Regions from separate parts of the Homo sapiens genome. Here regions 2, 3, 4 and 5 are each linked to region 1. The links come from fine-mapping of genetic effects on gene expression. A gene starts in region 1. Each other region holds a variant in brackets. All regions are shown on one strand. Distances are between the middles of the regions.

Region 1 (5,102 bases):
TCGTGGGCACCTGTAATCCTAGCTACTCAGGAGACTGAGGCAGGAGAATCACTTGAACCCGGGAGGCAGAGGTTACAGTGAACCGAGATCACGCCACTGCAGCCTGGGAGATAGAGTGAGATTCAGTCTCGGAGGGAAAAAAAAAAGCCACAGTGAGATACCACTTTACACCCACTAAAATGTCTTTAACCAAAAATAAATAAATAAATAACGAATGGCAGGGATGTGAAGAAACTGGAATCATTATACATTGCTGATGGAAATGTAAAATGGTGCAGCCACTTGGAAAATTTGTCAAATAGTTTGCAGTTTCTCAAAATGTTCACCACAGTTACCATATGATCCAGCAATTCTACTCCTAGGTATATAACCAAGAGAAATGAAGTCATAAGTCCACATAAAAACTTGCACAAGAATGTTCATAGCAGCATTAATTAGAAGAGCCAAAAAGCAGAAATATCAACTTATAAATTGACAATCAAAATATGGCATATCCATATAATGGAATATTATTCAGCAATAAAAGAAATGAAGAACATCAGATACATGCTACAACATGGATGAATCTTGAAAACATTATACTACATGAAACATGGCAGACACACAAAAAACCACTTATTTATGATTCCATTTATAGGCAACGGAATAGGCAAATTCCATTTGCCATTCTGGAACTGGCAAATTTAGAGGGAAAGAAACTCTCTGGGGCTGGGAGAGTCATGGAGAAATAGGGAGTGACTGCTAATGGGCAGAGGTTTCTTTTTGGGGTGATGAAAATGATCTAAAATTGATTGTGGTGATGGTTACACAGCTTCTGTGAACATGCTAAAAAACACTGAATTGTCCCCTTTAAATAAGTAAACTGGGGCCGGACACAGTGGCTCATGCCTGTAATCCCAGCACTTTGGGAGGCTGAGTCCGGTGGATTGCTTGAGCCCAGGAGTTCAAGACCAGCCTGGGCAACATAGAAAGACCCCGTCTCTATAAGTAAATAACATAAAATAAATAAGTAAACAGTATGGCATGTTAGTTTTATCTCAGTAACCCTGTTAGAAAAAAACTAGGGGGGAAATTTGCATACACACAAATGCAAATACAAATAGTTACGCTGAATACTCATATACATACATATATATATATACTTTTTTGTGTGTGTGTGTGATGGAGTCTCGCTCTTTCGCCCAGGCTGGAGTGCAGTGGCGCTATCTTGGCTCACTGCAAGCTCCGCCTCCCGGGCTCACGCCATTCTCCTGCCTCAGCCTCCTGAGTAGCTGGGACTTGGAGGTGCCCGCCACCGCGCTTGGCTAATTTTTTGTATTTTTAGTAGAGACGGGGTTTCACCGTGTTAGCCAGGATGGTCTCCATCTCCTGACCTCGTGATCCGCCCGCCTCGGCCTCCCAAAGTGCTGGGATTACAGGCGTGAGCCACCGCGCCCGGCCTGAATACTCATATTTTTACCTCGATGTAATCTACTTAATAAAATGTAATCTAGCTTTAAAAATCTTATGAAGGAGTAAAATTATTTTTTCATTTCTAATTGACAAAAGACAATAAAAGTCTGAAAAGGGTTTATTAACTTGTCAACAGACGCAAGAGTAGAAAAGGTGGAGCTGAAGCCTGAACACGTTTTCTGGCTCTTTCCCCTCTTCAGTTCCACCAGTCCCCCAATTATGTAACATTTTGAAACCCTGCCATGAAGAAATATAATCTTCGAAGACAGGAAGCAAATACTGATGTTTATGTGTTTGCAAAGGAACGTGTTGGGAAAATTCAAATTTACGTAATCACTTATTGAGCCCTTATGCGGCAGCATTTATAATTTCTCATCATTTTTCCACTTTTAAACTGATTTTCTTCAACCCTAAGAGTGAAGGGTATCTAGTCTCTGGAAAGTCCCAGCCAACACTGAAGCAAAATAATTCCAAAAAAAAAAGAACTTTTCCAGTTCTGGCTATAACAAAAACTTTCAGAAACTTAATATTTCTTCCTCATGAAACTGTGGTCAACAACCAAAAAGATGACAGAATGTGACTTCAATCACTCAAGTTCTCATCGAGGCACACTCCCCACTGTCGCTTCTATCTCGTTCCCAGAGACCCACGGGAAAATGTCACAAAATGGCACAGAAATGCCAGGATCAAGAAAAGGGTCAGCGAGAGCGGGGCAGTAGGGCGGGAGACAGAAGGCCTGGCACCAGCCTGCGCCTAGATTAAATGCTTAAGTAGGGCGAGGGTCATGCTCGGTGCAGGAGCCCCAGGTGACCAAAGAGCGGTGCCCCCGGGCGCCGAGAGGCCAAAGAGGAGGGAAGACATAGTGGGCGCCCTGAAGGGGCGTGGTGAAGCCGGGCCGCACTCACGAAACGCTGGTAGAAGCGGACTAGCCGTGGCTTCCCATGGTTGTTGAAAACCAGAATCGCCTGAATCATCTTTGCCAGCCACGGTTCTCTCAGCACCGGCTACTCCCAGAAAGCTCCTCCTTCCGCCACAACACGATCACTTCCGGTTGGTGCGCTGCTGAGAGCGGCACTCGGAAACTTGGCCCCGGCGCTCACGAGCCCTAGCACCCAAGGGTCCGGCCTCTCTGACGCCTTGGAGGGCAGGTGCGGATGCCGAGGAGAGTGGTCACCTCGGCCAGCGTTGGTTGGCCAGTCAGGATGCGAATCCGGATCTATGTCCCTCGCCCAGACCGACGGCTGGCCCCAGAAGCCGAAACGACCGTCAGCCGGGTTGCCAAAACGGAGAGGCGGCGGGAGCTTGCTTTTCTCACCGCCCGCTCCAAATCATGCACTCCCGCCATCCCCTTAGCGCTCGCAGAACGTTCCGCGGAGTGGAGACGCCGGTCATTCGGCCGTTCGTCGGTTATGGAACATTTCGTTCATTTTAATTTTTCAGTATTATAATGCTGCAGTGAATTACGTAGCTGTCTCTCCGTGCAGATGGGCTGTTCCTCTATGGTAGACGGTGAATGGTGGAATTAAGGAATTTTTAGTGCATTTCCATTTAAAATCCCAAATCGATCAAGTTCTTATTTTTGTTTGTTCTTTTAATGACCCAGTGTGGGTGAAGTGGAGCATGTCCGTATACTGCAGATGGAGCAGCGGATACAGATGCAAATCGATCCAGAGGACTGTTTGGCGATATGGATCAGAAGCCTTTAAAATATATAACAGTCCGGGCGCGGTGGCTCACGCCTGTAATCCCAGCACTTTGGGAGGCCGAGGCGGGCGGCTCACTTGAGGTCAGCAGTTCGAGACCAGCCTGGCCAACAAGGTGAAACCCCGCCTCTACTAAAATTACAAAAATTAGCCGGTTGTGGTGGCGCGCGCCTGTAGTCCCAGATACTTGGGAGACTGAGGCAGGAGAATGGCTTGAACCCGGGAGGCGGAGGTTGCAGTGAGCTGAGATCACACCACACTGCACTCCAGCCTGGGTGACAGATATATAACATATATATATATATATATAAAACATTAGACTCAGCGTTTCCAGCTCTAGAATTTATGATAAAATGATTGTGGATGTGTGAAAAGATTTAGCCTGAGGAACATACATTTCTGCCAGAGTATCTTCAGAACAGTAAAAAAAAGAAGAAAAAAATATATATCTCAGCAGTGTTATTACAGGGGAAAATGGGAAGAAAATTATTACAAAAATGAGAAATTGGTTAAGTGCATTGTTCTACATTGAATATGAGAAATATTAAATAGATAATAAAAATCATGCTGGGAAAGATTTATGATACGGAAGTGTTCATGACACCTGTTAAGCTAAAAGATTACACAAAGTATGTACAGGGACAACCCACTTTGCTCAAGATTGGAGGCAAATACACCAAAATATGAATCATGTATCTGATGGAATGGCAGAGTCAGGGTGTTTGATCTGTACAGGACCCTGGAACCACACTGCCCTGATTCAAAGCATGGTTCTGCGGACTGCCTGGGCACCCTGGGCAAGTTTCCCCATCTGTAGAAAAGGTGTAATATCAGTTTCCTAAACTGGAAAACTGGAAAATGAGTCTACTGACTTCAGACAGTTGTTATAAACACAAAGGGAGTTAGTATAATATTTGTAAGCACTTGGACAGTGCATGGCACATAACTGAGTACCACATAAGTGATTTAAAAACATCTTTGGGTGGTAGGATTATCAAGTTTTCCTTTTTTTCCTTCAAAGAAATATGTACTACTTTTGCAGCCAGAGTTCTGGGGTTTGCTTGTTTGTTTTTCAGAGATAGGGTCTTACCCAGGTTGGAGTGCAGTGGCACAGTCATACCTCACTGTAACCTCAAACTGCTGGCCTCAGGCAATCCTCCAGCCTCAGTCTCCCAAACCGCCACCACGCCTAGTCCAGTTTTTTGTTTGTTTGTTTGTTTGTTTGTTTGAGATGGAGTCTCACTCTGTTGCCCAGGCTGGAGTGCAGTGGCACAATCTTGGCTCACTGCAACCTCCGTCTCCCGGGTTCAAACAATTCTCCTGCTTCAGCCTCCCCAGTAGCTGGGATTACAGGCACATGCCACCATGCCCAGCAAATTTTTGTATTTTTAGTAGAGATGGGGTTTCACCACATTGGCCAGTCTGGTCTCAAACTCCTGACCTCAAGTGATTCACCCATCTCAGTCTCCCGAAGTGCTGGGATTACAGGCGTGAGCCACTGCGCCCGGCATGGCCCAGTTTTTAAATAAATAAAAACCAAAAGTCAGTTGCACTGAAACTTGACAAAATGTTTAAAATGTTGAGGAAGAATATCAAAGAAAATTCTGAAACAGAATTATGAAGAAGAACTAGCTCTGCCAACTATGAAAACCTACTTTGATGGTTCAAATTGTAATTATAGGAAGAATAACTGAAATATTATAAATAATTTAGGCATAAAATAATTTTAATATGTGATGTAGGAGTGGGAAGGAATTCAGTAAATACTATTAGGATAACTGGTTAGCAATTTGAAAATAAGTAGTTAGGTATAAAACCAGATAATAACCTAAACAGAAGAAAGCGAAATTGAATAAGATCCAAAAATCTGTATTAGCTTAGAAGCAATAAAAATCACAAAACATCAACAGATATATAAAGTTTTTTTATAAAAAGAATTATTTAATG
Region 2 (5,102 bases), 65 kb before region 1:
TCCACCTCCCAGGTTCAAGCGATTCTCCTGCCTCAGCCTCCCAAGTAGCTGGGATTACAGGCATGTGCCACCACGCCCGGCTAATTTTTTTTTTTTTTTTGTATTTTTAGTAGAGACGGGGTTTCACCATGTTGGTTAGGCTGGTCTTGAACTCCTGACCTCGTGATCTGCCCACCTTGGCCTCCCAAAGTGCTGGGATTACAGGTGTGAGCCACCATGCCAGGTGGACTTTTGGTTTTGTCTGCAGCCTGGCTAGTTTCAGTCTAGGCTTTCCGCCTTCCCTTTGAGCCTGTGAGAGCTTCCCCACAGCCCTTCAGCGAGTGCCTTTCTGGGTTGGTTCTCTTTGCACTGGGAATCCTGACTGGTGCAAGGGAGCCGCTGTGTTCCCATTTCCCAGCTGAGGAAACACAACAGAGAGAGGTTAGGTGTGTTGCCCAAGGTCACACAGTTGGAAGTGGCAGAGGCAGGATCAAACCAAGTTCACGTCTCCTTCAGGGCTTTAGGACTATGTATCATAGTAAAATGCCCTCTCACACACCATTCTGACCACCTGGAAGTGGGCAGATAAGGGACTGGCTCAGGGTCACACAGTGAGACAGGAAGCTGGGCCTGTGCCCCCACCACACAGTGCCTCCTGCCCTCAAGGCTGAGTAGAGCGTGGAGCTTCACGCATGTTGAGAGGGAAATGGAAGGAGTTGAATGCATTCATTGATTTGTTGAGCAATCTCGTACTTACTGACAGCTGAATATGGGTCAGGCACTGTCCCAGGCACCAGCAAGGCAGCAGCAAAACAACAGTGAAAAAGAGAGTCGACATGGCACACACTGTCATATCGGGTGACAAGCGCCACAGAGGACAAAGTGGGGTGAGGGATGGGGAGTGAGGGGAGAAGTGGCTGCTTCAGCCAGGTGGGACCGGGAAGTCCTCTGCAGGTGAAGGCTGAGAGAAGTGAGGAGCAAGGGGGACCTGAAGACAGAGGCAGAGGGGATGGCAAGACAAAGGCCCTGCGTGGGAATGAGCCCGGCAGGTTTGAGAAGCATAAAGGCCAGTGTGGCTGGAAGGAGGGAGCCAGGCAGGGGTGCAAGATGAGGATGTGGGGTGGGTGGGGGCAGCTAAGCAGGGCCTTGGGTTTCTTTGAGGCTGGTGGGAAGCTTTTGGGAGGCTTTAAAGGCTGCAGGGCAGTGGGGGTCTGATGAATGCATGAGGTGGTTCACTCTGCGGTGGAGCGATGACATGAGCCACAAGGAGACAGAGGGGGAGGCAGAGACACTGCTGAGGGGCCTGAGGGGTTGTGGTGGTGTCCGGGCAGGGACACTGGGGTGGAGGATGCAGTGGTGACATGTGGGCTCCAGGACCACTGACTATCGTGCAGGATCTGGTGCTGGGGGGCAGTGAGTTCTCAGGGAGGGAAACTCGTGTCAGGGATGAGAAGACAGGGGCTGGGGATGCCGGGGACTGTGGGCCCAGAGCAAAGGGGAGCTGTGACACCCAGAGAAAGGGTGGCCTTTGGCCTCTCCAGGGCAGGGGAGCCCAGGGCAGTTGGGCAGAGCTGGGCTGGGGCTGAGCCAGTTGGGCTGACAAGAAGGCTTGGGCGGGACCTGACAAGGAGGACTTGCTTCAGGGTGTCAACCTGTACCAGGCTCAGGCTGCAAGGCCAGGTAGTGTCACCGTAACCCTCACCTGGTTGACACAGGGTCTGGACCCAAGGATTTCCTTCCAACCCTGTAATATCATTATGTACTTTAAACAGCTACTGGGCTGCTTGACAGTTTCTAGGGCTGAGGCAGGGCCCAAATGGTGGAGAAGAGGCAGCTAGAGGCCGGGAACTCAGAAGGGGAATCTCAGCAAAAAACACCCCGAAGGAGCTGAGTCCTGCGGGAGCTCCCTCTACGTGAACTGACGGGTGTTGTGGGAGCAGGTCCAGCCACACAAAGGAAGTTCCAGTAGAGCTGGCTCGGCAGTTGACAGTTTAAATCCTGGCTTGCCTCGGTGCTGCTGGCTTCGGTCCGCAGCTCCCTCTAGCCAGCCCACACCCAGCTGGGGAGCCACTCAGGGCTGGACAGGGGTCAGGGAAAGGGCATTCATGTCAAGTGCCCCGGACCAAGAGGCCGGAGAAAACCTTCAGTTCCAGGTTGCCTAGGGCAAAGGTGGTGATCTTTGGCAGCACAAAGTGCCCTGGGTTTGGGGCTGTCCTTTGGCCTCCAGTTTCAGTGCTAGCCTGGGAGTGTCCAGAGAGATGAAGTATGAGATGACTTGTCCCTCCCACCACAGTGCCCAAGTGGGAGGAGGCACGCTGACCCATGCAGCCACACACACAACCCACAGGCCTCATCTCTGACTCTCCCAGGCAAGCAAAGGAGCAGACTGCAGCAGCCCTGAGATGTGGCTGTTGCCTCGGAAGGAATGTTGCCTTGGAAGGAAGAGGAAGGGATCCCGGCGGAAGGAAGAGGAAGGGATCCTGGCGGCAGAGCCCACATGTGACACCAGTAACCCCCAACCCCTAAATCAGCTACCTCCATCCTGATTGGTCAATGCCTGAGCCATGCTGGTTGGTAAATATTTTGAGCATCACCTCATTCTGCGGAACCAGGGGACTCATTTGTGAAAACTACCTGGAACTCCTGTCTATCAATTTTAGCTTAGCCTTTCTTTCACAGTGTGCAAAGGGCGTTCATTCTCAGCAATGCAGAAGGCAACCTCCAGCTTGTCTCTCCTGAAATTGCAGCCTGGTCCTTGGAGGCTGGGGGAGGGGACACCCCTGTTTCCAAGTGCTCC[C/T]GGGAGGCCAGGCTGTCAGAGCTGTACTAAAATGTAAGGTTTGCTCTTGAGAAGGCTCAAAGATCCCACTTCTCATGGGAAGCGTGGAGTCCCTGCAGGGGCCCCAACTCTCATCCAGGCCTGCGAGGTCAGAGGCCCTCTCACTGGTCCCCAGATTCGAGCTCCCGCCGTGCTTGCTGGGACTGCCAGATGTCCCTCCTGACTCCAGGGAAAGGAAGTTCCAGGCTCCTCTCCCCTCTGACCCCCATACCGTGGGTCCTGCCAGTTGCTAGTTGCTCTTCTATGTCTTCAGACGCTCCCCATCTTAAGATTCACTTTCTGCAGACCCCACCACCTCCTCAACCATTTTATCTAGCTGTGCCTCTGGATACGGGTGTGGGACCCCACTGACAGGCCAGGCCAGGGCCAGTGTGCATCACCATCCCCGTGCAGTGCCCTCCTTTAAGGCCCACTTTGGTTTCTGCTGCCCTCATTTCCTCTTCCCCTTCTGCCAGGACCTGAGCTCTTTCTCCTTCCCAGCATCATCGAACTTATTCCATCCACCTCCTCAACTCCCATTCCCTCTGCAAGTCTCAGTGATAAGAGTAGCCAATGTTGACTGAGTGAGTCCTTCATCGTCCGCATCAGTGATTCACTGAATCCACACAGTAACCTACAAGGCAGGAATCATTACCCTCTTTTTCAGATGAGCAAACTGAATCTTCCGAAGGTTCAGACTGCACATTGCAGAGCTGGACTGTGACCCACACTAAGTTTGGACCTGCCCCACCATGAGGCTAGAGCCATCTCTTCACAGTTCTCACTCGGGGGGCTGGGCTGGGGCCAATGGAAGCCTGAGAGAGGCCGTCTCTTCCTGGTCCCCCTCCCCACTGAAAGTGCTTCCTTGACTTGAAGTCGCCCGCTGTCCAGATGCTCCTCTCTCCCCTGCCCACAGGCTCAGTCCTCAACCCTCTTGTCCCTCGGCCACAGCGCTCACCCCCACACCTCCAATCATCATCTCTGGGTGGAGACTCATTTCCTCTCCTGCCCACTCAGTTTCCCAGCTGGCTGGTGGACATCTGCCCCCAGAGATGCTTGGACAACCCCAACCGAATGCGTTCCACATCCAAACTCCTGATTGCCACCCTCCCAAACCCCCTCCCTCTCTCGAGAGCCCCATCCTTGCGCCTCCTCGTTACACGGGCTCCACCTGCCAACACCAGCTCTGCCATTCTCCTCTCCCTCAGCCTCCACGAGCCATCATCGGGTCCTTCCCACTTCCTGCTTCCAATACCACTATTCTGGTTCTCCTTCCCAAGTGCTGAGCACAGGGACCTGGAGAGCACATGCTGAGACTGTTAGAATGAACTGCCATTTGCCTCAACCGTTCACTCATCCAACAGTTATTTATTGAACGCCATGGACCAGGTACCGTGCCCAGCAGCTGGGATGCAGCACTGAACACGAGACAAGCCCCTGCCCTGGAGGGGCTTACATCCCGGCAGGGTAAACAGCCAGTAACTTCAGAAACCAAACATCCAGTACGTCAGAGTGCCATGGGAAAGGTACGCTGAGCAAGGGCGGGCAGTGCCAGGGCTGGGGTGCCACTGTACAGGGTGATGGGGAGGCCCTCCTCCCTGGAGAGGGCGGCATGATCCTAGTGGGCCGAGGTCAACCGCCAGGGTCAAACGGAACACAACCCACTCTCAGGAAGACATCCCTAACACAAATCCAGGGACTTTGTTTCTTAACCTTAAAATTGGAAACACTTCTTGCTACCAGGGATGGGGGGTGGGGCTCAGCGTTTGGGGAACCGGAGTGGGAGTCTTTTGCTGAACAGACTTTTGTTTTCTTAAGTTTTGAACTACATGAATGTATTTCCTTTTTTGAAAGGAAAATTGAAATAGGAAAAAATTTTAAGTCTTTTGGAAAGAATTAATCATTTTCATGGAACTGCTTCCCTATAGGGGCCTGTTTTCGTATCTGCCAACTTCCACTGAAACACGCAGATGGAGAACCCTCCAGTGCTCCCGAGAAGGGAGACAGTCTTAACCCAGAGGACAGCATCCACCAGCCTGCAAGCACGGACCCCGTGCTGGTGTGTGAGTGCAGCACACACTGGGCTAACCATCACCACAGTGAGACTGGCACCCTCTGGGGTAGGGTAGACTCAGGAAGGTGAAAATCAGGATGTCTGCCAGGAGCTGACAAATCCCTCTGGGACTCTCATACTTCAGAGGCTCTCCAGTTTGGCTATTGCTAAACTTGGACTAGCCCCTACTACCGATCTTAATACCCATGTACCAATCATTGCTGCATCCTATTTGGAAAGCAATGGACAGACAGC
Region 3 (5,102 bases), 27 kb before region 1:
ACAAGGTTTCACCATGTTGTCCAGGCTGTTCTCAAACTCCTGACCTAAGTTGACCCACTCGCCTCAGCCTCCCAAAGTGCTGGGATTATAGGCATTAGCCACTGTGCCCGGTCCTTACAAATACGTTTTTAAATCACAGGCAGACAACCTCACAGAAGAAAGAACAAAGGCCCTGAATAAACATTTCACTAGAGAGGACCTCCTAATAGGCAATAAACAAGAAAAGATGCTCATCTTCATAAGAAATGCAATTGGAATGACAATGAAATGCCAGTACATACCTACTAGCTGGATAAAAATTAAGTTCTATATCCATCAGTCAGGACAGGCTTGGTTAAGTCACAGTAACAATTTTAACATTTCATGGCTTAAAGTAACAAGTTTATTTCTCTCATACTATGCACACATCCACTGTGCGTCCACTGGGGAGCACTGCTCTACCTCATCCTCAGTTAGGGACCCAGGCCCTGGAAGGCTGTGTGTCCATGCTTCCACAAATGGAATATATATATATATATTCCATTATTATATATATTAGCACTGGCTCCTAAGTTTTGCCTAGAAGTGACACATGGCACTTCCACTCACACTTCATTAGCTAAAGCAAGTCACATGGCTACACCTAACTTCAGGAAGGCATATTAGTATAATTTTACCATGTTTCTCGAAGGGGAAAGAACTGTAAATATTTAGTTAACAGTTCTAATGATTACCACACTGAGAATATAAACCTTTGGTGAGCATACAGAGCACTGGGAACACTCACCCCCGATTGGTAGAAGTATAAATGGATACAATCACTCTGGCATTATCTAACAAAGTGGCAGATACTATGGTCTACAGTCCAGAGGCCTTGAGCCTCAGACTTCTTTTGCCAGTGCTGCAGCCCTGCTGGTGCTTTTGTGCTTCCTTCTAGAGGCCTGTTTCTTCCTTCTAGAGGCCTCACCTATGACCCAGGAATTGCACTGTTAAGAGAAATAGATGTTTCAAGAAAATGTACAAAAATGTACAATAGCATCCATTTTCAAGAATATTCATGACAACATATTTCATAAAAGCTCCAAACTCAAAACAATCTAATTCCATCAGTCATAGAATGGATAAATTCATATAATGAAATCCTATGCAGCAATGAAATTAAACTTCCTAAGGCCACATGTAACAAAATGGGTGATTCTTACAAATAACACGGAGCAAAGAAGGTAAAACACAAAACAACAAATGTTGACTTTCAAAGTCACCTTGGAGGCTGGGCGCGGTGGCTCACTCACGCCTGTAATTCCAGCACTTTGGGAGACTGAGGTGGGTGGATCACCTGAGGTCAGGAGTTGGAGACCAGCCTGACAGATATGATGAAACCCTGTCTCTACTAAAAATACAAAAATTAGCCGGGCATGGTGGCAGGCACCTGTAGTCCCAGCTACTCCGGAGGCTGAGACAGGAGAATCACTTGAACACGGGAAGCAGAGGTTGCAGTGAGCCGAGATCACACAACTGCACTCCAGCCTGGGCAACAGAGCGAGACTCCGTCTCAAAAAAAAAAAAAAAAAAAAGTCACCATGGAGGTATACTCCACGTTGCCTAGACAATGAACTAGCTTAGACTAGGGGGTTGGGAGGCTACCCCTTCTCCCAGTGAGAGGGGCTGCACCCAAGCACAACTTCCCACAGCACCTACAGCTGTCTTCTCCAGGTGTGTATTATCCCACAGGTCCCTAAGTTTCCAGGTGTTGGGCAGCTGGCATTCCCAGACAACTTCCTTTTTTTTTTTTTTTGAAATGGAGTTTTGCTCTTGTTGCCCAGGCTGAAGTGCAATGGCATGATCTCGGCTCCCTGCAACCTCTGCCTCCTGGGTTCAAGTGATTCTCCTGTCTCAGCCTCCTGAGTAGCTGGAATTATAGGCATGCACCACCAAGCCCAGCTAATTTTGCATTTTTAGTAGAGACGGGGTTTCTCCATGTTGGTTAGGCTGGTCTCGAACTCCCGACCTCAGGCCTCCCAAAGTGCTGGGATTATAGGCGTTAGCCACCGCACCCGGCCCCTAGACAACATCTATAAGCAGCTGGCACACAAATACAGATTTCGTGGTGTCTAAGCATTCTGCCTATCTCTCCACTAGCAAAGCTACTCTCACAGGTGCCTGATAAAAAAGACAGCATTGGAGGAGGTGGGTGATGGGAGTCATTCCAGCAGAGACACCTCAATACACCTCTCCATGGGCTCTTCTCTTGCTTTGAAAACTCCCCCTTTTCCCCTCTCCCTCTCCCTCTCCCTCTCCCCCTACCCCTCCCCCTCCCCCTCTCCCTCTCCCTCTCCCTCTCCCCACGGTCTCCCTCTCATGCGGAGCCGAAGCTGGACTGTACTACTGCCATCTCGGCTCACTGCAACCTCCCTGCCTGATTCTCCTGCCTCAGCCTGCCGAGTGCCTGCGATTGCAGGCACGCGCCGCCACGCCTGACTGGTTTTGGTGGAGACGGGGTTTCGCTGTGTTGGCCGGGCCGGTCTCCAGCCCCTAACCGCGAGTGATCCGCCAGCCTTGGCCTCCCGAGGTGCCGGGATTGCAGACGGAGTCTCGTTCACTCAGTGCTCAATGGTGCCCAGGCTGGAGTGCAGTGGCGTGATCTCAGCTCACTACAACCTACACCTCCCAGCCGCCTGCCTTGGCCTCCCAAAGTGCCGAGATTGCAGCCTCTGCCCGGCCGCCACCCGGTCTGGGAAGTGAGGAGTGTCTCTGCCTGGCCGCCCATCGTCTGGGATGTGAGGAGCCCCTCTGCCTGGCTGCCCAGTCTGGAAAGTGAGGAGCGTCTGCGCCCGGCCGCCATCCCATCTAGGAAGTGAGGAGCGCCTCTTCCCAGCCGCCATCACATCTAGGAAGTGAGGAGCGTCTCTGCCCGGCCGCCCATCGTCTGAGATGTGGGGAGCGCCTCTGCCCCGCCGCCCCATCTGGGTTGTGAGGAGCGCCTCTGCCCGGCCGAGACCCCGTCTGGGAGGT[A/G]AGGAGCGTCTCTGCCCGGCCGCCCTGTCTGAGAAGTGAGGAGACCCTCTGCCTGGCAACCACCCCGTATGAGAAGTGAGGAGCCCCTCCGCCCGGCAGCTGCCCCGTCTGAGAAGTGAGGAGCCTCTCCGCCCGGCAGCCACCCCATCTGGGAAGTGAGGAGCGGCTCCGCCCGGCAGCCACCCCGTCCGGGAGGGAGGTGGGGGGGGTCAGCCCCCCACCCGGCCAGCCGCCCCATCCGGCCAGCCGTGCCATCCGGGAGGGAGGTGGGGGGGTCAGCCCCCCGCCCGGCCAGCCGCCCCGTCCAGGAGGTGAGGGGCGCCTCTGCCCGGCCGCCCCTACTGGGAAGTGAGGAGCCCCTCAGCCTGGCCAGCCACCCCGTCCGGGAGGGAGATGGGGGGGTCAGCCCCCCCACCCGGCCAGCCGCCCCGTCCGGGAGGGAGGTGGGGGGGTCAGCCCCCCGCCTGGCCAGCTGCCCCGTCCGGGAGGGAGGTGGGGGGGTCAGCCCTCCGCCCGGCCAGCCGCCCCGTCTGGGAGGTGAGGGGCGCCTCTGCCCGGCCGCCCCTACTGGGAAGTGAGGAGCCCCTCTGCCCGGCCAGCCGCCCCGTCCGGGAGGGAGGTGGAGGGGTCAGCCCCCCGCCCGGCCAGCCGCCCTGTCCGGGAGGGAGGTGGGGGGGTCAGCCCTCCGCCCGGCCAGCCGCCCCGTCTGGGAGGTGAGGGGCGCCTCTGCCCGGCCACCCCTACTGGGAAGTGAGGAGCCCCTCTGCCCGGCCAGCCGCCCGGTCCGGGAGGGAGGTGGGGGGGTCAGCCCCCCGCCCGGCCAGCCGCCCCGTCCGGGAGGGAGGTGGGGGGGTCAGCCCTCCACCCGGCCAGCCGCCCCGTCTGGGAGGTGAGGGGCGCCTCTGCCCGGCCGCCCCTACTGGGAAGTGAGGAGCCCCTCTGCCCGGCCAGCCGCCCGGTCCGGGAGGGAGGTGGGGGGGTCAGCCCTCCGCCCGGCCAGCCGCCCCGTCTGGGAGGTGAGGGGCGCCTCTGCCCGGCCGCCCCTACTGGGAAGTGAGGAGCCCCTCTGCCCGGCCAGCCGCCCCGTCCGGGAGGGAGGTGGGGGGGTCAGCCCCCTGCCCGGCCAGCTGCCCCGTCCGGGAGGTGAGGGGCGCCTCTGCCCGGCCGCCCCTACTGGGAAGTGAGGAGCCCCTCTGCCCGGCCAGCCGCCCCGTCCGGGAGGGAGGTGGGGGGGTCAGCCCCCTGCCCGGCCAGCCGCCCCGTCCGGGAGGTGAGGGGCGCCTCTGCCTGGCCGCCCCTACTGGGAAGTGAGGAGCCCCTCTGCCCGGCCACCACCCCGTCTGGGAGGTGTGCCCAACAGCTCATTGAGAACGGGTCAGGATGACAATGGCGGCTTTGTGGAACAGAAAGGCGGGAAAGGTGGGGAAAAGATTGAGAAATCGGATGGTTGCCGTGTCTGTGTAGAAAGAAGTAGACATGGGAGACTTTTCATTTTGTTCTGCACTAAGAAAAATTCTTCTGCCTTGGGATCCTGTTGATCTGTGACCTTACCCCCAACCCTGTGCTCTCTGAAACATGTGCTGTGTCCACTCAGGGTTAAATGGATTAAGGGCGGTGCAAGATGTGCTTTGTTAAACAGATGCTTGAAGGCAGCATGCGCGTTAAGAGTCATCACCAATCCCTAATCTCAAGTAATCAGGGACACAAACACTGCGGAAGGCCGCAGGGTCCTCTGCCTAGGAAAACCAGAGACCTTTGTTCACTTGTTTATCTGCTGACCTTCCCTCCACTATTGTCCCATGACCCTGCCAAATCCCCCTCTGTGAGAAACACCCAAGAATTATCAATAAAAAAAAAAAAAAAAAAAGAAAACTCCCCCTTTCCTAGTAAAATCTATCCTTGAATCCCTGAATCTACACCTGAGATGTTAAGAAATTCATTTGCAGCCTGGTGAGCAACAGGTGGCATCTTCAAAGAACCCACTTTGCACACTAGGTGGTAACTTCGAAAGTAACACCTTGTATTTAACAATTTGGTTGTTTTTTTTTTTTTGAGACACAGTCTCGCTCTGTTGCCCAGGCTGGAGAGCAGTGGCGCGACCTCGGCTCACT
Region 4 (5,102 bases), 34 kb before region 1:
ACAGGGTTTCAACATGTTGGTCAGGCTGGTCTTGAACTCCTGACCTCAAGTGATCCATCCACCTCGGCCTCCCAAAGTGCTGGGATTACAGGTGTGAGCCACCGTGCCTAGTTTATGAGCTTCTTACAGGTAGAAAATTTGAGTTTTATATCTTTGTATCTCTATATTTAGCGCAGTGTCTTTTTCCTAATGAATGCTTAATAAATGATTGTTGTTTGGTAATCAGAGAAAAGACAAAAACACTCTCAGACATCAGTACTTCATCAAGGTCAGAGAGCCAAGGTAAAGACAAATGATTTGCAGAAAGCCTCTAAGGAGGGAGGCACTCGCCTCCCACATATAAAAACCATTTATTCTGTTAAGAAATTTTATTTTAAGTCATCTTAAATTCATTTGGGAAGTATAGAAGATATAAATGCCCAATAATCAGAGAAACTGAAAAGCTGCCATGTGGGATACCTTTCCTAAGATTCAACCATGTTTTCTTCTTATTAGAGCACTCCTCTATTTTTCTGTTACTAAAATTTCTAGCTTCCCTTCTACAAAGTGATAATAAAAATCAAACATTAACTTTTCCTCTAAGAAAATCCATGAAAAAACCATGGTCATCATTGGTAATATTCAACTAGTTCAGGTTCTCCTCCCTCTTGGGCACATAATAGGATCATTTCCCCATCCCTTGGGTGGGAGCATGTGACTGATTTTGATCACTGAAATGTGAGTGTACGAGGATGTGTCACTTCAAGAGCCGGAACACACACATGCCCAGGTAGAAGCATATGTTGAGGAGATTTCCATCAGCCTGGACCTCAGAGGAACTACAGTCAGCAGACACACCACAATGGCCACATAGCACGAGTGAAAAAATAAACCTTGCTCTCATAAGCCATTGGGATTTTGGAGTAATGCATTACCTAGCCTACCTTGATTGATACAAAAATCAAGCCTGGAAAAGGGTTCTTAGTTAGGAATCAAGAGATTCTGCTTTGCTGGGTGTGGTGGCTCACACCTGCAATCCCAGCACTTTGGGAGGCTGAGACAGGCGGATCACCTGAGGTTGGGAGTTTGAGACCAGCCTGATCAACATAGAGAAACTCCGTCTCTACTAAAAAAAAATACAAAACTAGCCGGGTGTGGTGGCGCACGCCTATAATCCCAGCTAGGCAGGAGGCTGATGCAGGAGAATTGCTTGAACCCAGGAGGTGGAGGTTGCAGTGAGCCGAGATCACGTCATTGCACTCCAACCTGGGCAACAAGAGCGAAACTCCATCTCAAAAAAAGAAAGAAAAAGAAAGAAAGAAAGAAAGAAAGAAAGAAAGAAAGAAAGAGAGAGAGAGAGAGAGAGAGAGAGAGAGAGAAAGAAAGAAAGAAAGAAAGAAAGAAAGAAAGAAAGAGAAACTCTACTTCTTATCTTAGAGTAGGCTAATCCTCTTCTGCAATATAAGGAATAATAGCAAGAACAATAAAATTGAATCTCAATTCCAGCCTTTCAGGGTGCCTATAAATCAGCAACCAAAGCAAAATACAATTCGTTTTATCTGCAACATATCCAAGTAATACCATGGGTAATAAGCTTTGTTTACTGACTACAACCTTGACAAACACTAGGTTTTACTGAAAACGGCTGCATATCAAATGAATATCTCTAAAGGTCAAATTGTGCTGTTTTGTGTACACTGTTATTCTACTAACCAGTAATAAGGAATGACTAACACACCAAACTTGAAGCAGCAGGTAATCAATGAGATTGTGCACTGAGGCAATCCAAAGTTCAAGTAAGGAAAGCGAGTGTGTATATGGCAGCAGATATTCAGTATAGTCTGGAACAATCCTTGCTTTTGTTTTTTTCTTTTTTTTTTTCTTTTTTACTTAAAGAGATGGGGTCTCACTTATTGCTCAGGCTGTTCTCAAACTCCTGGGCTCAAGTGATCCTCTCGCCTCAGCCTCCCAAAGTGCTGGGGATTATCGTCGTGAGCCTCCACAACCAGCCCAAGTGTCCTTCCTTCCTTCCTTTCTTCCTTCCTTCCCTCTCTCCTTGCTTCCTTTCTCTTTCTTTCTTTCCTTCTTTCTTTCTTTTTCCCTCCTTCCTTCCTTTTTTTCTTTTCTTTCTTTCCTTTTTTCTTTTCTTTTTCTTCCTTCCTTCCTTTCCTTCCTTCCTTTTTCCTTCCTTTCCTTCCTTCCTTCTTTCCTTCCTTTCCTTCCTTCCTTCCTTCCTTCCTTTTCTTTCTTT[C/CTTTT]TTTTTTTTTTTTGAGATGGAGTCCTGCTCTGTCGCCCAGGCTGGTGTGCAGTGGCGCGACCTCGGCTCACTGCAACCTACACTTCCCAGGTTCAAGCAATTCTCCTGCCTCACGTCTCCCGTGTAGCTGGGATTAAAGGTGCACGCCACCACGCCTGGGTAATTTTTGTATTTTTAGTAGAGACGGAGTTTCACCACGTTGGCCAGGCTGGTCTCGAACTCCTGACCTCAGGTGAGCCACCCGCCTTGACCTCCCAAAGTGCTAAGATTACAGGCTCGAGCCACCGCGCCCAGCCCTTCTTTCTTTTTTTTTCTAAACAAATTACAGGGATTTTAGAAATTTAAGAAATCATTATTGCTGATCTTTTTTTTTTTTTTTTTCTGAGATGGAGTCTCGCTCTGTCACCCAGGCTGGAGTGCAGTGGCGCGATCTCGGCTCACTGCAAGCTCCGCCTCCAGGGTTCATGCCATTCTCCTGCCTCAGCCTCCAGAGTAGCTAGGACTACAGGCACCTGCCACCATGCCCAGCTAATTTTTTGTATTTTTTAGTAGAGACAGGGTTTCACCGTGTTAGCCAGGTTGGTCTCGATCTCCTGACCTCGTGATCTGTCCGCCTTGGCCCTCCCAAAGTGCTGGGATTACAGGCATGAGCCATCATGACCAGCCGATCTCTGTCTTTATGTTACCCTGAGGGAATAAGATTTTGGCCTCTGAAAAAAATATTCTACAGCCAACACTAAGAATTGAAGATAACATACAGAAAGTACAGTAGTCCCCCCTTACCTGCCTAGAATATGTCCTAAGACCCCCAGTGGATGCGTTATTTTTTCCTATACACACATACCTAGGATAAAGTCTAATTTGTAAATTAGGCACAGTAAGAGATTAACAACGATAACTAATAATAAAAACAATTATGACAATATGCCAGCATCATTACTCTTGCACTTTGGGGCCATTATGAAGTAAAATAAAGGTTACCTGAACACAAGCACCGTGACACTGTGACAGTCAAGATGGCTACTAAGTAAGCAGTGGGCAGCTAGTGTACACAGCACGGATACAATGGATGAGGGGATGATTCCCATCCTGGAGCAGGACAGAGCAACATTTCATCATGCTGCTCAGAATGGCATGCAATTTAAAACGTATTGTTTATTTCTAGAATTTTCCATTTAATATTTTTGGACCATGGTTGACTGTGCATAACTGGAACTACAGAAAGTGAAACTGCAGATAAAACTGTCTGTCTTAACCACGCTTTAACTCTGCCCTACAACTGGCCTTTCTGTATGTAAGATAATAAATTTCCTTATTACTTAAGCCAAAAAAAAAAATTCTGCCACAAAATTCTTACCTATCAAGCATCAGTAAAGAAGGGCTTTATAGATGCAATGGAACACAAGGCTGGTCTCAGCTCTCTTCTTCTCTTAGGCACATCCAGATAGAGAAACAGAGGCAGCCAGGGATAGTCAGGTATGTTAACTCGCACCTTTTACAAGAACTAAAACTCAAACAGAATACCTTATTCTTCCAGACCAAATAGCTCCTCTTTCATCATCAAAAACACAAACTGTCTGTCCCTCACTTGTCCCTCCATTCCTGGAGACCTGCAGTCAGGACATCTGCTTCAACGTCACAGGGTGTGGCAGGTATTAATGAGCTTTGTTATCACAAGCTCTGTTCACAGAAGGGACATCTGGCAAACAAAACCCAATATTACTGTTTATGATCCTTTCATCTTAGTGCTCACGAGTTAATTTTGAACTCTCAGCATTTTTCCATTTTAGCAGCCTATGCTTAGCAGAGATTTAAAATTCCATACTATGAGGTTTTCTTGGGTTCAGCACCATTCAGAAGCATATGTTTCAATTCTCTTGAGAGGGCCCACTGCAAATTGAAATCTATTTAAAAAAAAATAAAGCGCTGGATAAATTCCCTTGACATAGCCATTGAATTGTGACTCTGATGACCAAATCTTGAAAGCCCAATTGAATTCTAAATCCAGCTTTGCTATTAGATACTGGTAGATCAGAATGTTAGGTCACCCACACAGTTTTCTTTGAACAAAATTCAATTCACCATAATTAACACCAACACCCAGCTCAGTCATAATGTTGAGCTGTGTTTAGGGATTTCTGAAAGCAAAAGGGAACCAAGTACCCTAGGCTCTAAATGGCACAGCCAGGAGAGCTGATGGTTACCCCAGAGACTATGAAATCAGACCTTACTCCAGCCTCCAACAGTTTAAATCATGAGCAACCTTATGAGACTAGAGTCCTGGGAACTCTTTAGTGACAGTCACCTGAAGATTACCCCAGTCAGTAAAAGGTACCACACTAGATTCAGTGAGGAATACAAAGATAAGGCAGTCTAACCAAGCAGGGAAAACATAGAAAGGTACATAAATTAAGGTCACAGAAGGATAAAAATAATACTATACCTGGTTCAAAGAGATCACAATAGGCTAGACCATGAGGGCAAGCTTTAGGGTGGTAGGATTTGAGCAGCACTTGAATGACAGGCAGTATTTAGTACATGAAAAGACAATTCAGGCAGAGAGTTGAGGCAGGAACTACAAAATAAGTAGGAGTGGTCCACTGTGGCTAGAGCAGAAAGTGTCTGGCCAGTAGTTACGGAAGTAAAGCCAGGATAGGATGGGCACAAATTGTGGAGAGCCTTGAATGTGTCCGGCCAAGGAGTCAAGGCTAGTCTAAGAAGTACATTAGAAAAACTAATTTCAGTATGTGGGATCAACAAGAAGGAAGAGAGAATAAGGTTAGAAAACCTGCCAGAAACAATCAAGAGACATGACAACTAAAGACAATGTTTGACTCATAACTGAAACTGAGATTTAAAAAAAGATCTAAAG
Region 5 (5,102 bases), 48 kb before region 1:
GGTTCAAGCGATTCTCTTGCTTCAGCCTCCTGAGTAGCTGGGATTACAGGCATGTGCCACCACGCCTGACTAATTTTGTATTTTTCGTAGAGATGGGGTTTCTCCATGTTGGTCAGGCTGGTCTCAAACTCCCAAACTCAGGTGATCCGTCCGCCTTGGCCTCCCAAAGTGCTGGGATTACAAGCATGAGCCACTACACCCAGCCAAGTATTTCTTAAGGAATCTACAAAAGGAAGCACTTGTGCCAACTAACAGGTGACTGGAAAAACTATGGCAGGGCCAGGCCTGGTGGCTCATGCCTGTAATCCCAGCACTTTGGGAGGCCAAGGTGGGTGGATCATTTGAGGTCAGGAGTTCAAGACCAGCCTGGCCAACATGGTGAAACCCCGTCTCTACTAAAAATACAAAAATTAGCCAGGTGTGGTGGCATGCACCTGTAATCCCAGCTACTCAGGAGGCTGAGGCAGAATTGCTTGAACCCGGGAGGTGGAGGCTGCAGTGAGCTGAGATCGCACCATTGTACTCCAGCCTGGGTGATGGAGCGAGACTCTATCTCAGAAAAAAACAAACAAACAAAAGTTAGCTGGGCAGAAGTGGCATGTGCCTGTAATTCTAGCTACTTGGGAGGCTGGGGCAGGAGAATCGCCTGAACCCAGGAGGAGGAGGTTACAGTGAGCCAAGATCGTGCCACTGCACTCCAGCCTGGGCAACAAGAGTGAAACTCCGTCTCAGAAACAAAAACAAAAACAAAAACAAAAAAACTACGGCAAAAACTTACGGTGAGCACTGAAAACTACTTAACTGTAGGTCTAAGACTAAAATAGGATTAGGGTAACAACAGATCGTCAATACTATATGCTTTGATGATGTATAAAACTCCAGCTAGCAAAAACTAGGAAGAGAAGAGGGGAAAAAGGAGGGAGGTAGAATACGAACACTGATTTCCTCACCCTCAGTAACTGAGAGTCCATGGATAGCATTTAAAACTAAAGTAATAAAGATATGGTTAATCTGACTTTTACTGTGACTTTTCCCGTGAATGTTCAAGCCTACCATCATTGTTATAAACAACAAAACTTTGAGAGCCACTGAACTTTTGGCTAGGGCCAAAAAACCCTCTTTCTTTCTTTCTCTTTCTTTCTTTCTTTCTTTCTTTCTTTCTTTCTTTCTTTCTTTCTTTCTTTCTTTCTTTCTCTCTCTCTCTCTTTCTTTCTTTACTTTTTTCTTTCCTTCCTTCCTTCTTTCCTTCCTTCCTTCTTTCTTTCTTTCTTTTTTTAGAGACAGGGTCTTGCTCTGTCACCCAGGCTGGAGTGCAGTGCCATGATAATAGCTCACTGCAGCCTTGAACTCCTGGGCTCCAGCAATCCTCCTGCCTCAGTCTCATGAGTAGCTGGGCCTATAGGCATGTGCCACCATGCCCAGCTTTTTTTCTTTTTTTTTTTAATTTCTAAGTAGAGATGAGGTCTTGCTATATTGCTCAGGCTGGTCTTGAACTCCTGAGCTCAAGGGATCCTCCCGCCTCAGCCTTCCAAAGCATTGGGATTACAGGTGTGAGCCAATGTGCCCAACCTAGAAGGATCTCTTCTGCTGATTAGAGTTTTTTGCCATTATTGCAAAAAACTCACCCAGAATGCATCATCTACAATTTCCAGTTTCTTAAAGTTAGAACTCAAACTGCTGTGAAACAGTAAGTACAGAATCCTAGATTTTTAAGATCCTTCCACCTCTACTCTTCCATAGTTATCTTGCCCAAACCTAATTCAGCTTCATTTCCTTTTTAAAGTACTTGTCCTTCCAAAGCATTCCTCTTACTTTTCACAGAGTAATTTTCTTTTCTTTTTTTTTTTGGAAACAGTCTCACTCTGTTGCCCAGCTGGAGTGCAGTGGCACGATCTCGGCTCACTGCAGCCTCTGTCTCCCAGGCTCAAGCGATTCTCTTGCCTCAGCCTCCTGAGTAGCTGGGACTACAGGCGCCCGCCACCACGCCCAGCTTATTTTTTGTATTTTTAGTAGAGACGAGGTTTTACCATGTTGCCCAGGCTGGTCTTGAACTCCTGAGCTCAGGCAATCTGCCTACCCCGGCCTCCCAAAGTCCTAGGATTACAGGCGTGAGCCACCATGCACAGCCAGAATAATTTTCTTTTCTCCCTCATAATTTAATCTGTATATTATTTAATCAAATTACATAATTACAGTACCAGTTTACTGGCATAAAGAGATCTGGAAACATCACAACTGACCTTTGGTAAGCAAAATGACTCAAGTGTAAGTGAGCAATGGATGAGCGAACAGCTGCCCGTGTTAGTCCTGCTAGTCAGTTCAGACCTTGTCCACTGAATATGAAGTTGACCATGAAAGATGGCTAACATTTCTCTGATTGGAGATAGATGGGACTTAAGAAAGTTGGAGGCTGCCAAGCATGGGTGTGGGAGCAAGCAGTCAAGAATCAACACTGAACTCATGTACCTAAAGAACTGGAGATAGAGTCAGGGCACAAAGAAGGGTTCTGTTAAACAACAGAAGTTGGCTGATGCGCTGACCTTGAGGATGCCTGCAGAAATCTAAGTAAATACCTGAGAGAACACTGACAGATAAAGTCACAAACCAACACAGGGAGGCTGGTAGGGAAAGAAAATCTGAGACGTGAGTCATGTAAATGGTATTCAAAACCACAGGAACAGAAAGAAAGAGGCTAAGTCTTCGAGAGGCCTAAACTCAGCTTCACACAGTGTGCATTGAACAAATATGAATTATGAAGTAATAATAATTCAACCTTCTACTCAGCAAGCATGGGAAATAATGACACTAGCAAAATTCACTCAGAAGTGTTTATTAACAGAGTTTAAACAAAAGTGCTACTGATTTTTCAGTACTTGGCAAATCCAATGGTAATTCAACCTAAAAATAATTACAACCAGGATGAGTTTCATCTGACATAAAGATTAGGATAACCCCAATAAACCAACAGGATATCTTGATATAAGGGGAAGGCAATAGAGAAAATGCTTCGGGTGATAAATCTGAAATCTTAAAAGGTAAAATGAGGCATAGATACTGATGTTTTCCAAGATCAAGATACATAAATTTATGACAACATTTTAGTGAGTGAAAGTCGGTGTTTTTAGCTCTGTCCTATTTAAATTTTTCTCTTG[G/C]AACCCCTGAAAATAGTCAAGAGTAGGAATGAGTACTGTAGTCAAAATGTCAATTCCTCTAAAGACAATCTAACCTGTTATCGAGTCTCTCCACTCTCCCCCAACACCTCTGGACATCTGTGTCTCTTTATTTTTTTTTTTTCTTGAGACATGGTCTCACTCTGTCGCCCAGGATGGAATACAGTGGCATGATCTCGGCTCATTGCAACCTCCACCTCCCAGATTCAAGCGATCCTACAGCCTTAACCTCCCCAGTAGCTGGGACTACAGGCCACATGCCACCACACCCGGCTAATTTTTTTTCTTTTTTTTTTGAGACGGAGTCTCGCTCTGTGGCCCAGGCTGGAGTGCAGTGGTGCGATCTCGGCTCACTGCAACATCCGCCTCCCGGGTTCAAGCAATTCTCCTGCCTCAGCCTCCCGAGTAGCTGGGACTACAGGCGTGTGCCACCACACCCAGCTAATTTTTTGTATTTTTAGTAGAGACAGGGTTTCACTGTGTTAGCCAGGATGGTCTCGATCTCCTGACCTTGTGATCCGCCTGCCTCGGCCTCCCAAAGTGCTGGGATTACAGGTATGAGCAACTGCGCCCAGCACACCTGGCTAATTTTTGTATTTTTTGGTAGAAATGGGGTCTCACCATGTTGGCCAGGCTGGTCTCAAACTCCTGATCTCAGGTGATCCGCCCACCTCAGCCTCCCAAAGTGCTGGGATTACAGGTGTGAGCCACCTCGCCTGGCCTCATTTTTTCTTTTCTAGGATGCTATCACCTCATCCTCCATCCCTTGAAGGTACTTGCTTCTATAACTGGACCTACTTACTGTCTGCAACACAAAGTTAACCTCTGCAGACAAAAGTAGATTAAGACCAGGCATAGCAGCTCATGCCTGTATTCCCAGCATTTTGGGAGGCCTAGGAAGGAGGATTGCTTGAGCCCAGGAGTTCAAGACCAGCCTGGGCAACATAGTGAGACCTCTGTCTCTCTAAAAAAAAAAAGTTTAAAAACTAGCTGGGCATAGTGGCACAAGCCTGTAGTTCCAGCTACTCGGTAGGCTGAGGTAAGAGGATCACTTGAGCCTGGAAGTCAAGACTTCAGTGATTGCACCACTGCACTCCAGCCTGGGAGACAGGGCGAGACCCTGTTACAAAAAAAAAAAAAAAAAAAAAAAAAAAAGTAGATTAAAATGAGTCTGCTAGTTTCATATCAGAATTGAATCTAAGAAGAAAAATAAAAGTGTTTCTTCAAGGATACAGATGTGCCTCAGGAACCTAGCTCTAGAACTACTAGGGGTGGGGACAAGTCAGTTGCAACAACCCTCCGGAAGGACAGAGGATTCCATGCTCTTCAAGGGTTCCATCCCTGGTTGTTTCTCACTGAAATCAAAGAAAGTTCTGAATCTAATCCCATGTCAACAGAGATCACTTAAAAACAGACTGATCTGGTACCTGAAGATAATAAACAAGAAGGCATAAGCAAGGTATTTAAATTACCTTTTACTCTAGTAAAAACACAGTCTCCAAACCTTAAATTGGTCATGTTCCAAATGTTTAAGTATTTAAATTTACAATGCATTTTTCTATAAAGGTAATAAGTAAGATTTTCAAGGCTAGCAGCTCATGAAAGCAGACTTAAATCCATAAAGCTACCCAAAATGTGGTACCAGAGAGCACCCCTGCCACTACACCTAATATGAACAATACTGTTTCTATAATAAAATGCAGTTCTGTATTGGGATGGCAGGATTCCATCTAACCGAAAATTTCACAGGCAGAGAGGATAAGTAAAATCTTTTGAGACACTAGCAGCATGTTAATGCATGCCACATCCCAAGCTTAATCGAATCCATAGAAACCTCTAATCTAGATCAATCCCTCTCCAGGTCCCTTGCACTGTAGGGCAAATGCCTGTTGTGCTACAAAAGACAGAGGCTCACATTCCTACTGTGGAGTC

Direction of the effects. Positions count from the first base shown, and alleles are read on the strand shown. Sizes are in standard deviations (SD) of each study's normalised expression. Not every link is listed here.
As copies of G replace A in region 3, the expression in adrenal gland of the gene that starts at base 2,471 in region 1 goes down (moderate effect, 0.75 SD a copy in GTEx).
For the expression in damaged cartilage of the gene that starts at base 2,471 in region 1, allele C in region 4 goes with a higher level than allele CTTTT (moderate effect, 0.60 SD a copy in Steinberg 2020).
With allele G in place of C in region 5, the expression in monocytes of the gene that starts at base 2,471 in region 1 is higher (moderate effect, 0.65 SD a copy in Fairfax 2014).

The links. PIP is the estimated chance that this variant, and not a neighbour inherited with it, causes the effect.
Region 2: its variant is the best candidate, but not a certain one, in a credible set for the expression of AP3S2 in whole blood (INTERVAL, PIP 0.89).
Region 3: its variant is the best candidate, but not a certain one, in a credible set for the expression of AP3S2 in adrenal gland (GTEx, PIP 0.53).
Region 4: its variant is the best candidate, but not a certain one, in a credible set for the expression of AP3S2 in damaged cartilage (Steinberg 2020, PIP 0.87).
Region 5: its variant is the best candidate, but not a certain one, in a credible set for the expression of AP3S2 in monocytes (Fairfax 2014, PIP 0.73).

Annotation. Positions count from the first base shown.
Region 1 is chr15:89,891,524-89,896,625 of GRCh38, forward strand. AP3S2 (adaptor related protein complex 3 subunit sigma 2) reads right to left here and starts at 2,471. Exons shown (of 6, transcript NM_005829.5): 1 at 2,358-2,471. The coding sequence starts at 2,426. All of the region lies in intron 5 of ARPIN-AP3S2 (ARPIN-AP3S2 readthrough), which reads right to left. It overlaps ARPIN (actin related protein 2/3 complex inhibitor), which reads right to left. Exons shown (of 6, transcript NM_182616.4): 6 at 3,483-5,102. RefSeq lists enhancers at 760-1,509, 2,502-2,651, 3,006-3,753.
Region 2 is chr15:89,826,457-89,831,558 of GRCh38, forward strand. It overlaps ARPIN-AP3S2 (ARPIN-AP3S2 readthrough), which reads right to left. Exons shown (of 10, transcript NM_001199058.2): 10 at 4,143-5,102. It overlaps AP3S2 (adaptor related protein complex 3 subunit sigma 2), which reads right to left. Exons shown (of 6, transcript NM_005829.5): 6 at 4,143-5,102. Among named protein-coding and RNA genes, the nearest start is that of ANPEP, 14 kb to the left of the region's middle. RefSeq lists an enhancer at 895-1,786. The variant C/T (reference allele first, on the strand shown) is at 2,777.
Region 3 is chr15:89,864,729-89,869,830 of GRCh38, forward strand. All of the region lies in intron 8 of ARPIN-AP3S2 (ARPIN-AP3S2 readthrough), which reads right to left. All of the region lies in intron 4 of AP3S2 (adaptor related protein complex 3 subunit sigma 2), which reads right to left. Among named protein-coding and RNA genes, the nearest start is that of MIR5094, 17 kb to the left of the region's middle. The variant A/G (reference allele first, on the strand shown) is at 2,992.
Region 4 is chr15:89,857,169-89,862,270 of GRCh38, forward strand. All of the region lies in intron 8 of ARPIN-AP3S2 (ARPIN-AP3S2 readthrough), which reads right to left. All of the region lies in intron 4 of AP3S2 (adaptor related protein complex 3 subunit sigma 2), which reads right to left. Among named protein-coding and RNA genes, the nearest start is that of MIR5094, 9.0 kb to the left of the region's middle. The variant C/CTTTT (reference allele first, on the strand shown) is at 2,231.
Region 5 is chr15:89,843,079-89,848,180 of GRCh38, forward strand. The region is part of intron 8 of ARPIN-AP3S2 (ARPIN-AP3S2 readthrough); the gene reads right to left. All of the region lies in intron 4 of AP3S2 (adaptor related protein complex 3 subunit sigma 2), which reads right to left. Among named protein-coding and RNA genes, the nearest start is that of MIR5094, 5.1 kb to the right of the region's middle. The variant G/C (reference allele first, on the strand shown) is at 3,153.